3 separate regions of the Homo sapiens genome follow, and regions 2 and 3 are each linked to region 1. The links come from fine-mapping of genetic effects on gene expression. A gene starts in region 1. Each other region holds a variant in brackets. All regions are shown on one strand. Distances are from middle to middle.

What was found. PIP is the estimated chance that this variant, and not a neighbour inherited with it, causes the effect. A credible set is the group of variants that fine-mapping cannot tell apart.
Region 2: its variant is the best candidate, but not a certain one, in a credible set for the expression of AFF4 in regulatory T cells (Schmiedel 2018, PIP 0.77).
Region 3: its variant is the best candidate, but not a certain one, in a credible set for the expression of AFF4 in spleen (GTEx, PIP 0.76).

The regions. Positions count from the first base shown.
Region 1 is chr5:132,961,289-132,965,561 of GRCh38, forward strand. AFF4 (ALF transcription elongation factor 4) reads right to left here and starts at 2,346. Exons shown (of 21, transcript NM_014423.4): 1 at 1,971-2,346. AFF4-DT (AFF4 divergent transcript) reads left to right here and starts at 2,524. Exons shown (of 2, transcript NR_186175.1): 1 at 2,524-2,846; 2 at 2,953-3,402. RefSeq lists a silencer at 1,801-2,640.
Region 2 is chr5:132,983,247-132,987,402 of GRCh38, forward strand. It overlaps the pseudogene LOC402230. Among named protein-coding and RNA genes, the nearest start is that of AFF4-DT, 22 kb to the left of the region's middle. The variant A/G (reference allele first, on the strand shown) is at 2,338.
Region 3 is chr5:132,806,803-132,811,075 of GRCh38, forward strand. No RefSeq gene overlaps it. Among named protein-coding and RNA genes, the nearest start is that of SOWAHA, 4.4 kb to the right of the region's middle. RefSeq lists a silencer at 1,675-1,969. The variant G/A (reference allele first, on the strand shown) is at 2,404.

The DNA of each region.
Region 1 (4,273 bases):
ACAGGCATGTACCACCATGTCTGGCTAATTTGGTTCTCATGCCTCAGCCTCTCAAGTAGCTAGAACTACAGGTGTGCACCACCACACCTGGCTAATTCTTGTATTTTTAGTAGAGACGGGGTTTCATTATGTTGGCCAGGATGGTCTAGAACTCCTGACCTCAGGTGATCCGCCCACCTCGGCCTCTCAAAGTGCTAAAGTGCTAGGATTACAGGCGTGAACCACCAGGCCCGGCTGCAGAATATATTGCTACAAAAAGGGTACAATAACTCAAGAGTACACAGAAGAGAATGTATCAACCTGAATGTGAGAATCTGACAAGTAGAAAGTGACTCAGAACAAAAATATTCAATCTTTAAGAATTCTTAATTACACAGCTTCACCTTACACTCCCAAACTGTAGATCATGTTCCAATTAACACAGCTGGGCTCTTTTTTCAGACACCCCATCTTGTCCCCACTTGAAGCAAAATTTTATTTAAAGTAAAATTTGCCTACTGTTTCTAGAGAGTTAACAAAAATCAAAGTACCAGCCTGCAAACCACCGCAAATTGAATGAAACTGCTGGTAATAAAAAAAGAAAAATTTGACTGCTTCCAGGTTTTTAGTAAGTTAACTCTGAAAGATAACTTAAAATAACTTACTGGGAATTTTTCTTATATTTAGGAGCTGAAAGATGCAGTGATAATAAGGAAAACGAATCTGAGAAATTTAAAGAAGCCAGCTTTGTTGAAAACCAAGTGGCCACTTGCCAACACTTCTTTATGCACGTATGACCAAAGATGATTCTAGGCAGACTCACAGACCACAAAGGCTCTTTATCAAATCCCAAATTAAGAAAGTTCTCATAAATATTTCAATTTTGATAAGTTAAAGACCAGTTAAGTTTTAAAAAGCACTTTATGAAGTGCAGAATCAATACAGAAACGAAGCTTTGCGCTTTTCATATCTGAGCCCGAAAAACAGCACACATTTTATGTTACATTTACAGTCTATTCACAGACACCTATAGCTTAGATTCCATCAAGAAAAACACTGGTCAATGGAAAAGTGACTGGCCTTAGTATAAAATTTCCATGTGGCCAGCAGGGAAGAAACCGCATAATTCTGAATTACAACTGACAAAACTACGAGAACCCTAAATCGAACTCTTCGCCTTGAACTCCATATACAAACATTTCAGATTCGTACTTCCACTTCCTGAAAATAATACTGTTTGTAAACGAAAAGGCAATAAGGTTACTCCCAAAACTCCTGTACTCCATGATCCATCCTCAAAGAGTGGAAGGAACAGCAAAGTAGAAGGAACAAAGCACTGACGTCAATTACGAGATTAACCCCAAGCACAGGCAGCTGGAGGAAAGGCCTAAACATCAATATCCACGCACAAGCTACTGGGATAACTAGGTAACAGACCGATTCAGAAGTTGTAGGGGAGGGTATTCGAGTATTATACCCCCACGTTCCCATTTTTAGTCAATCCCCTTCGCAAGTCGAAGGCGGAAATTTTTCCTTCTTTTTTTTTTTTTTTTGCGGGGGTGGGGGTGTGGGAGAGGTGCGCAGGATCGCGAGAAGGAAAGCGAGAACTAGCTGGGTAATGTTAGCCAGAATCTGGGCCTATTTTCTCTTTAATTAGACATAATTTGAAATTGAGGAGGATATGAAAAAGTAACAAATCAGCCGATGGAACGTCTGAGGAAAGAAAGAGGAAAGGAGAAACACTAAACGGATGGATTTCTGGGAATTTTTGTTAGGATTGGGTTAGCTTTTTTTATTTTCTTATCTTTGCGGGAAGGTGGTGGGGTGGGACGCGCAGATGAGAGGAGGGGTGACGCCTGATTGAGCAGCCCCAGCCCGGAGGGTCTCCCCGAGGCTCCCCGCAGAACTTGCGGGCCCCCACCCCCACCCGGCCCCGGCCACAACCCCCGCGGCCCGGCCCGGCCCTGGGTCAGTCTGTCGGCCCTTCTTACCTCCAGTCCCGGCTCCGCTAGGCCCGAACCATCTCCTGGCTGCGGCAGTGGCGGCGCCGGGCCTGCACCTTCACCGGACGCGCATTCGAGCCCGCCCAGGGGGCGGTGACAGGCTGCCAAGGGCGAGGGGCTCCGGGAGGCGGCGGGGGTTCCGGAGGCCTCGACAAACGAAGGCGGCGTCGGCGGCGGCGGCAGCGATGCGCCTCACACGGAACAGGCGTAGGCCCCGCACCGCTCCATGACGGTCGGGCCCGGGCTGGGACAGCTGACTGAGGCGGCGGGGGCGGGTTAACGAAGACCTGGCACCAGGATCCCCGCCCCGTCCGCTGGCGGCGGCGACGGCAGCTGGACTCCTGCAGCCAGGGCTGTGACTGACGCAGCGGCCGTGCCACCATGTGACCAAGACCGGGCGGGTGCGGGGCGTCACGTGATGCCTCTGCGCCCCTCCCCGCTGGGGGAGTAGGGGGCGGGGGTCTGTGGGCCGGCTGGGCCGGGAGGCGACGCCCGGGGTGGTGACGTTCCCGGCTGTGGGGTCTGATGACCCGGGCCAGGCAAAGGACCCGCCCGAGCGGTATAGGCCTGAGCCTCTGGGCACTGCGGCCGCGTCCGGCAGGGCTGCCACGGCAGTACAGGGCCTGCACATCCGGGAGCTCACGCCCTCCTGCGCGTAGCCCGCTAGTGAGGTTCCGAAGGGCGGGGCCGGGCCGAACCGGATATGCCGGTTCTGGGGCTCAGGTGACAAACCCAGGCCTTCCGCCCCTCGCCTCTGGTGGGGATCCGGCCCAACCCGGAGCTTCCTAGACTTGCTTCCAGGTGTCGAAGCCTCGAGTCCTCAAGAGGTCCAGCAAAAAGGCAAAGGACGCAGGAGGCTGTTCGGTATTTCCAGTAAACTTACCCTAAGAAGCCAAACCGTCCCTCTTTCTTCGTCATTTAAACATCTTCTGCCACTAATGTTTTCCTTTTCATTTATTTATTGAGATAGATCTCGCTGTTGTCGCCCAGGCTGGAGTACAATGGCGGGATCTCGGCTCACTGCAACCTCCGCCTCCCGAGTTCAAGCGATTCTAGTACCTCAGCCTCCGGAGTAGCTGGGATTAAAGGGGGGAGCCACCACCTACGGCTAATTTTTGTATTTTTAATAGAGACACGGTTTCACCATGTTGGCCAGGCTGGTCTCGAACTCCTGACCTCAACCAATCCACCCGCCTGGGCCTCCCAAAGTGTTGGGATTACAGGCGTGAGCCACCGCACCCGGCCCACTAATGTTTTTCTTCAGCATATCATTCTGAACACTTCTTTCACCTCTAAACATCTACTATTTCTTTTAAGCTTCACTCTTTATATGCATTTTCTCTATAGAGCTATATAAATTAGGAAATGTCTTAATAGAAAACTCAAAACATGACAGAATAAAAAATAATTGATTCTCCCATCTCTGTCTGTTAGCTGTTTCAGTCCTGGAAGGCAATCACTTAGCATTTAATAATGTATCTTTCCCTACATATTTGTAAGTAATACATTAAAATATAGGGATACTTCTTTTTACACAAAAGGTAACACACTATATACGCTGTTCAGTCCTTTTTTTCTCACTTCAAATATCTTGGATAGGCTGGGCACAGTGGCTCAGGCCTATGATCCCAACACTTTAGGAGGCCGAGGGGGGCTGATCGCTTGAGACCAGGAGTTTGAGACCAACCCCGGCAACATGGCAAAACCCCATCCCTATGAAAAATACAAAAATTAGCCGGGCGTGGTGGTGCATGCGTATAGTCCCACCTACTCTGGAGACTGAGGTGGGAGGATCACTTGAGCCTAGGAGGTCGGTGCTGCAGTGAGCCGGGAGCTTGCCATCCAGCCTGGATGAGAGTGAGACCCTGTCTCAAAAAAAGAAAAAAGAAAAAAATGTCTTGGACATCCTGCCATATCAGTATATAATGAACTACCTTTTTCTTCCTAGAGGCAGAATAATATTCCACTTATGCAAACATCCTAATTTATTTAACCAATCCCCTACAGGTGGATATTCCGCTTGTTGCCAAGCCATTACTATTACATGCTAAGCTGCAATGAATAACCTCATACAAGACAGGGCAACATAGTGAGACCCCATCTCTACAAAAAATAAAAAATTAGCCGTTTGTGGTGGCACAGGCTTGTGGTCCTAACTACTAGAGAGGCTGAGGTGGGAGAATCGTTTGTACCCAGGAGATGAAGGCTGCAATGAGCCCTAATCGCACCACTGCACTCCAGTCTCAGTGACAGAGCAAGACCCTGTCTCAAAAAAGTTAAAATAATTAAAA
Region 2 (4,156 bases), 22 kb after region 1:
CAGACGGGGTCGCAGCCAGGCAGAGGCGCTCCTCACATCCCAGACGGGGCGGCGGGGCAGAGGCGCTCTCCACATCTCAGACAATGGGCGGCCGGGCAGAGACGCTCCTCACTTCCTAGATGGGATGGCGGCCGGGAAGAGGCGCTCCTCACTTCCTAGATGGGATGGCGGGCGGGCAGAGACGCTCCTCACTTTCCAGACTGGGCAGCCAGGCAGAGGGGCTCCTCACATCCCAGACGATGGGCGGCCAGGCAGAGACGCTCCTCACTTCCCAGATGGGGTGGCAGCCGGGCAGAGGCTGCAATCTCGGCACTTTGGGAGGCCAAGGCAGGCGGCTGGGAGGTGGAGGTTGTAGCGAGCCGAGATCACGCCACTGCACTCCAGCCTGGGCACCATTGAGCACTGAGTGAACGAGACTCTGTCTGCAATCCCGGCACCTCGGGAGGCCGAGGCTGGCGGACCACTCGCGGTTAGGAGCTGGAGACCAGCCCGGCCAACACAGCAAAACTCCATCTCCACCAAAAAAATACGAAAACCAGTCAGGCGTGGCGGCGCGCGCCTGCAATCGCAGGCACTGGGCAGGCTGAGGCAGGAGAATCAGGCAGGGAGGGTGCAGTGAGCCGAGATGGCAGCAGTACAGTCCAGCTTCGGCTCAGCATCAGAGGGAGACCGTGGAAAGAGAGGGAGAGGGAGACCGTGGGGGGGGGGGGGAGAGGGGGAGGGGAAGAGGGAGCGGGAGAGGGACGTTTTTTAAGACAGAGTCTCACGCTGTCACCCAGGCTGGTGTGCAGTGGCACAATCTCCACTCACTGCCACTTTAACCTCCTGGGCTCAAGGAATCCTCCCACCTCAGCCTCCAGAGTAGCTGGGACTACAGGCATGCGCCACCATATCTGGCTAATTTTTGCATTTTTTGTAGAGATGGGGTTTCTTTCACCTTTTTGCCCAGACTGGGCAAAATCTCAGCCTCCCAAAGTGCCGGGATTATATGCGTGAGCCATGGCGCCCACCCCCATCTGTTTATTCTTAAGTGAACCTTGGTAGTTTGTCTTTCAAGGAATTTGTCCATTCATCTAATTTATTTATTTAATTTTTAAAGAGACAGGGTCTTGCTCTGTTGTTCAGGCTGGAGTGCAGTGGTGCAAACACAGTTCACTTCAGCCTCAGACTCCTTGGCTCAAGCAATCCTCCCACCTCAGCCTCCCAAGTAGCTGGGACTATGCACCACTAAGCCCGGCTAATTTAAAAAAATTTTTTTCTAGAGACAAGGGTCTCACTATGTTGTGCAGGCTAGTCTCCAATTGCTGGCCTAAAGCAATTCTCCAGCCTCAGCCTTCCAAAGTGCTGGGATTATAGGTGTAAGCCACAGCACTCTGCCTATCTAATTTATTAAATGAGTAAAGTTGTTCATACTGTACTCTTAGTGTTCTTTTAATATCTGGGAATGTGTTGTAATAGCACCTCTCTCATTCCTAATGTTGGTAATTTGTGTCCTCTTTTTTATCCTGGGCAGTCTGGTTAGAGGTTTATCAATTTTATTAATCTTCTCATAGAACCATCTTTTGGATTCACTGAATGTATTGTTTTTTCATTTTCTATTACATTGATTTCTGCTCTGATCTTTATTTTTCTTTCCTTTCTTATATTTCTTTCTTCTGCTTATTTTGGGATTTTTTGCTCTTGTTTTCCTAGTTTCTTAAGATGAAAGCTGAAGTCATTGATTTGAGACTTTTCCCCTAATATAAATTTCCCCTACGTATTACTTCAGCAGCATTTCGCAAATATTAATATGTTTTGTTTTCATCTTCATTCAGTTAAAATGTCTTCTAATTTTCCTTTTGATTTCCTCTTTGAGCATGGATTATATGGAAGCATCTTGTGGCCGGGCACAGTGGCTCACGCCTGTAATCCCAGCACTTTGGGAGGCCAAGGCAGGTGGATCACGAGGTCAGGAAATCGAGACCGTCCTGTCCAACATGGTGAAACCTCATCTCCACTAAAATACAAAAAAATTAGCCAGGTGTGGTGGCGAACACCTGTAGTCCTAGCTACTCAGGAGGCTGAGGCAGGGGAATCGCTTGAACCCAGGAGGCAGAGGTTGCAGTGAACCAAGATTGCGCCATTGCACTCCAGCCTGGTGACAGAGCAAGACCCCATCTCAAAAAAAAAAAAGAAGTGTCTTGTTTAGTTCCATATAGTGGGGGACTTTCCAGAGATGTTTCTGTTATTGATTTCTAATTTAATTCCACCATGGTCGAAGAATATATCTTGTATGACTTGAACATTTTCATATTTATTGAGACTTGTTTTATAGCATAGAATGTGGACTACCTTGGT[A/G]AATATACATTACTAAATATTCTGGGTACACTTTAAAAAGAATGTATATTCTGCTATTGTTGGGTGGAGTAGTTCTGTAAGTGGCAATTATGTCAAGTGGGTTTATTGTGTTGTTCAAATCTGCTGTGTCTTCACTGATTTTTTTTGTCTATTGTTCTATTAGTTATTGAGTATGAGTATTGAGATCTCTCACTATAATTGTGAATTTGTCTATTTCTCATTTTATTTCTATCAGTTTTGCTTTATGCTTTCAAGCTCTGTTATTAGGTGTATTCATGTTTAGGATTATTATATCCTAATATATGAATTGTCACATTACCATACAAAATTATGAAATAGTAATAATACAAAAATAATATGAATATGAAATATGAATATAAATGAAAATATGAATGTGAAATGTGAATAATGCAAAATATATGAATGATACAAAAATTATGAATTGCCACATTATCATACAAAATGACTTTTTTTATCCTTGTTAGTACTCTTTCTTTTTTTTTTAATGGAGATAGATAGTAGTCACAGTTTTTTGTTTTTGTTTTTGTTTTTTTTTGAGACGGAGTCTTGCTCTTTCGCCCAGGCCGGAGTGCAGTGGCGCAATCTTGGCTCACTGCAAGCTCCTCCTCCTGGGTTCACGCCATTCTCCTGCCTCAGCCTCCCGAGTAGCTGGGACTACAGGCGCCCGCCACCGCGCCCGGCTAATTTTTTGTATTTTTAGTAGAGACAGGGTTTCACCGTGTTAGCCAGGATGGTCTCAATCTCCTGACCTCATGATCCGCCCGCCTCGGCCTTCCAAAGTGCTGGGATTACAGGCATGAGCCTCCGCGCCCCGCCAGTACTCACGGTTTTAATTATAGTGGCAAGTCATGGGAGGCAAGTCAATGTTTACCAGTGAAACAGTAGTTAATAAATTATGATACAACCAAGTAGCTACTAAAAGCTAAGTTTCCAAAGAATATTTAAAAGTATTTTTTAAATGTTCACAGTACACGGGAAAAAAAAGGGTTAAAGAAAGAACTGCATACATATTCTGATCTCATGGGTGAGGGTGAGAAATATACACCCAAAGAAGCCTGGAAAGACATATCCCGAAATGTTAAAATTGATTATTTCTGGGAGTAGATACCAGGTGATTTTTGGCCTTCCTTTTACTTTTTGGTTTCTCTCAGATATTTTTTTGCATGTATTGCTTTTATACTTGGGGGAGAACAATAAATGGTATTTTGTGGGGGGGAACCACAGAAGATAGAAAAATCTAGTTATGCTTTTTCATTCTTCCCATTTTTAAATTACTAAGAATCAAGATGCTTAAATCTATGCATGAAATAAAAAAAGAAAATGTCTAGGGGATTCTTTAGTAATAAAAATATTTATCAAATCTAAAAGTGTAGAAATACTGCTTTATTGGATAAACTTACTTCCAAATTACTTTCATGTTTTTTAAGAAGTCCTAATGAGCATTCAAGAAGAAAACATGTACTGCTTCCACAGGAATAAGGACAAATAAAATGAGGTTGACGCTTACCACAAATGATATTTCCTAAAAGAAAAAAACGTAATATTTAACTTTTCTTCTGTTGAGGCAAGGTAAGTGAACTGCATACATCATAAATAAGATTTTCTTGGCTGGGCGCTGTGGCTCATGCCTGTAATCCCAGCACTTTGGGAGGCCAAGGTGGGCGGATCACGAGGTCAGGAAATCGAGACCATCCTGGCTAACACGGTGAAACCCCGTCTCTACTAAAAAATACAAAAAATTAGCCGGGCGTGGTGGCGGGTGCCTGTAGTCCCAGCTACTCGGGGGGCTGAGGCAAGA
Region 3 (4,273 bases), 150 kb before region 1:
CCGAGGCAGGCGGATCACGAGGTCAGGAGTTCAAGACCATCCTGTCCAACATGGTGAAACCCCGTCTCTACTAAAATACAAAAAATTAGCCGGGCATGGTAGTACACGCCTGTAGTCCTAACTACTCGGAGGCTGAGGCAGGAGAATCCCTTGAACCCGGGAGGCAGAAGTTGCAGTGAGCCGAGACTGTGCCACTGCACTCCGGCCTGGCAACAGAGCGAGACTCCGTCTCAAAAAAACCACAAACAAAAAACACCTCATACCTGAGAAGGCAAGGGACTGAAAGGGATGATTAAAGATGGGTAGCAAAGGGCACCAACTGCTGGAGATTCATGAAGCCAGGACACAGCTTTCCAAGTCTCCGTGGACCAGGTCTGTGGCTCCCTACTTAGCAACCAAGCAATAGTCTGAGCAATCAGAGAAGCAGCAGCCTGAAAAATGAACTGCAGAGTCAAAAACTCAGTCTACAGCAGAAACACGTGAGCTGACACTTTCACTCAGATTTAGAAATAAAGTTCTTTTGACCTTAGAGAGAAGTGGGCTTAACAAGCTGCAGGCATGAGAGAGGTCCCCTTTGCTTCCCCTGGGCTGGAAGCAAGAACAAAGCACGATTTGTTCCGGAAGTTGACCGCAAAAGCTTGATATCTGGGCAAAGTCCCTTTACAGCCACTGCTGGGCAGCCCATCCCCCTCAAGTCCCTGGAGCTCCTGCCTCCTGGGACCGGAGGAACTCTTCTTTACAGATGAGATGTATTGGTGAGACACCAGGGGGCAGAGGTGGCAGGCTGCGTTGGATAAACGCAATGGAAGGAGCTGATTTGCACTGCCATGGTAGGGGAGAAGACATTTACAAACATTAAGCATCCGCTACAGCTCTTGGTGGGGCCTAGGCATGGGGTTCAGAGGGTAGTGTGGATTGGAATAAGGAATAGAACAGAACAGAATACAGACCAGGCGTGATGGCTCACGCCTATAATCCCAGCACTTTGGGAGGCCGAGGTGGGCAGATCACCTGAGGTCAGGAGTTTGAGACCAGCCTGAACAACATGGTGAAACCCTGTCTCTACTAAAAACACAAAAATACCATTGGCAGGCATCTGTAATCCCAGCTACTCAGGAGGCTGAAGCAGGAGAATCACTTGAACCCAGGAAGCAGAGGTTGCAGTGAGCCAAGATCGTGCCATCGCACTCCAGCCTAGGGGACAAGAGCGAGACTTTGTCTCAAAAATAATAATATAAATGTAATGTAACATAGCATAAGATTATGAAATTATTTTATTTTATATTTAAATATTGTAGCTTTAAAAATTACAGAGGGCCTCTACCCTGATCTGCTTCATATTTAAGATACTGAGATAAGAACAAATAGCCTTCCTATTTCATTCTCCATGTTCAAGACACATCATGGAATTTTATCCTTGCTATAAATATACATTTTATATTTGATTTTCCTAATGTTGCGGGCAAACTGCTGGGTCACTGGAAGAATTGATTCTCTGGCCTCACTGGCAACAGGGCATCAAAACTGAAAAGCAGCCTGGGGAACTGGATGTCATTAGCATCCTCACTGTAATGTTTGCTCAAACTATAAACTTATCACTTAAAATATTAAAGCAGAGTATGTTCAGAAGCACAAGCATAAATAAAAGTTTAAGTAAGGTATTTGTGAGGAGTTTTTCCCTACTTTATTTATTAAACATTCAGAACATCAATTTTAAATCATCAGTGACCTAACTTTGCATGGTAAATGAGCATAGGCAGGTAGCCTGGGGTTCCAGTTTGAGCTCAGCCAATTGTTAACTGTGACCTTGGCCAAGTTTCCTTATGTAGCTCAGAGCCTGAAGCCTGTTAAGCACTGTCAATAAACGGCTTGTACTAGCAATTCCTGTTCAATCAGTATTTAATCCTTGTCTACTCTTAGCGATCATGAAACCACCATTGCAAAATTATAACTGAGACAGTGAAAGAGATCTGATCTTACTAACTCCATCTTGCTTCTAACCTCCAAGTTGTCCTTGTTCATTCCTGAGCATAGGCCAAATTAACTTTGGGAGAAACTTAGTTTATAGTTTGAAACAAAGATGGTAACAGCCCTTTCCCAAAATGAACTAGACTGCCTTTGTAGAATTAACAAATTAGCCAAAAGATTAGATTATGGTTTAGAAGTCAGGCAGCTGGAGGCTGCAAGATTCTAAACCTCCCCAAATTGCCCCTGGGGATAACGTCACTATTGTGAAGCCTAAGATCAGTTCTTGAGATATTTTGCAGACCCTGTACTTGATGCATCAGCTGGCACCACCCAGGCTCGTAAACTGGCTCATCTGGTCTTGTAGCCCCCACCCAGGAGCTGACTCAATGCAAGAGGACAGCTTCAACTCCCTGTGATTTCATCTCTGACCTGACC[G/A]ATCAGAACCCCCAATTCACTGGCCCCCCTACCCACCAAATTATCCTTAAAAACTCCAGTCCCTAAATTCTCAGGGAGACTGATTTGAGTAATAATAAAACTCTGGTCTTCTTGCACAGCCAGCTCTGTGTGAATTACTCTTTCTCCATTGCAATTCCCCTGTCTTGATAAATCGGCTCTGTCTAGGCAGTGGGCAAGGTAAATTAATCCATTGGGGGGTTACAATCATAGTCAAAATTAGTTCAAACCACATAAATCAATAATGATCTTTAACAGAGAGTGCTCTCCCTCATCTCTCTTCTTGGAGACAAGAGATGGTAACAAAAGTCCAAGTTGAAGCTTCACTACCTATGAGATCATGGAAATGACTTTTCAAGGAACACAACAATTGGCCCAGAAAAAGGTAGGAAAATAAAATATAAAAAGTAGCTATTGAAATGAAAATTAAAACAAAGGGAATATAACTTTAAAAGTGAAAACAAGACAATATAATGCAAGTTCTGTTTCTGAAGTATCTTTGGCACCCATCCACTGTCCGAGCTTGATAAGCCCTACCGTCTTCCACTGGACCCTGCCACTACCTCCCCAGGGTCCCCTCTTCCGCCCATTCGCCACACCAGTCTTGACTAAGGTAACATGGGTTCTTAGCAACACGCGGTCTAATCCCATGTGTACCAAATGGTGTAGATGGTTGTGTATATATCTATGGATGTACAGAGAAAAACTCCTCACAGCATAAACTAAAAAATATCAAGTGGCTCTCTAACATGTGACATATTCTTTTTATATTTTAGAAACTATTGAGAATTGGAAAAAACATTAATTCTATAATCAGAAAATAAAGCCACTTTTTAAAAAGAAGAAAGCAAGCTCTCAATGACATTCTACTGCAAACAGGGCAAAGTCCAAACTACCATTTAAGGCCCTTCACCCATCACCCCAGATGACTTTTCCAACATTATATTTTTCCATATCCCTGGCACACACCCTGAACTTCAAACACACTGGACACTCTTTACCCTGAATTCAGCCTTCATAGTCCCACTTTCTTTTTTTGTTGCCCAGGCTGGAGTGCAGTGGCACTATCTTGACTCACTGCAAGTTCTGCCTCCCGGGTTCACACCATTCTCCTGCCTCAGCCTCCCAAGTAGCTGGGGCTACAGGTGCCCGCCACCATGCCCGGCTAATTTTTTTGTATTTTTAGTAGAGACAGGGTTTCACCATGTTAGCCAGGATGGTCTCAATCTCCTGACCTCATGATCTGCCCACCTCCGCCTCCCAAAGTACTGGGATTACAGGTGTGAGCCACCACACCCGGCCCACAGTCCCACTTTCAAGCTTTCACCTATCCTGTTCTCATAGCCTGCCTCTTGGAGATGTCCCAGTCCTCCCTCTTCCCTATCCTTCCCCACCCCTTCACCCCCCATCCCCCACGTGCTCTGGTAAGTACCTGGAGCATTCATTTCATTTGGCTATGTCACATAATTAATTGTACTTAATGTTTTTCTCTTCTCCACTAAGCAGTAAGCTCTTCAAAGGCAGATTGTATCTTCTACCCAGAGTATCTGGCTTACAGCCTTGCACCCAAAGATATCCAATAGATGTTTGTTGAAATAAATTATTGAGGAATGCAGAGCACGATACACCTGAGGCAGTTTGCAGAAGGCTTTACAGGGGTGGGCCTTGAGGTGAGTCTAAAGAATGGGTAAGGTAGGGCAGGCGCAGTGGCTCACGCCTGCAATCCCAGCACTTTGGGAGGCTGAGGTGAGTGGATCACCTGAGGTCAGGAGTTCGACACCAGCCTGGCCAACATGGTGAAACTCCATCTCTACTAAAAATAAAAAATTAGCCAGGCATGGTGGCACATGCC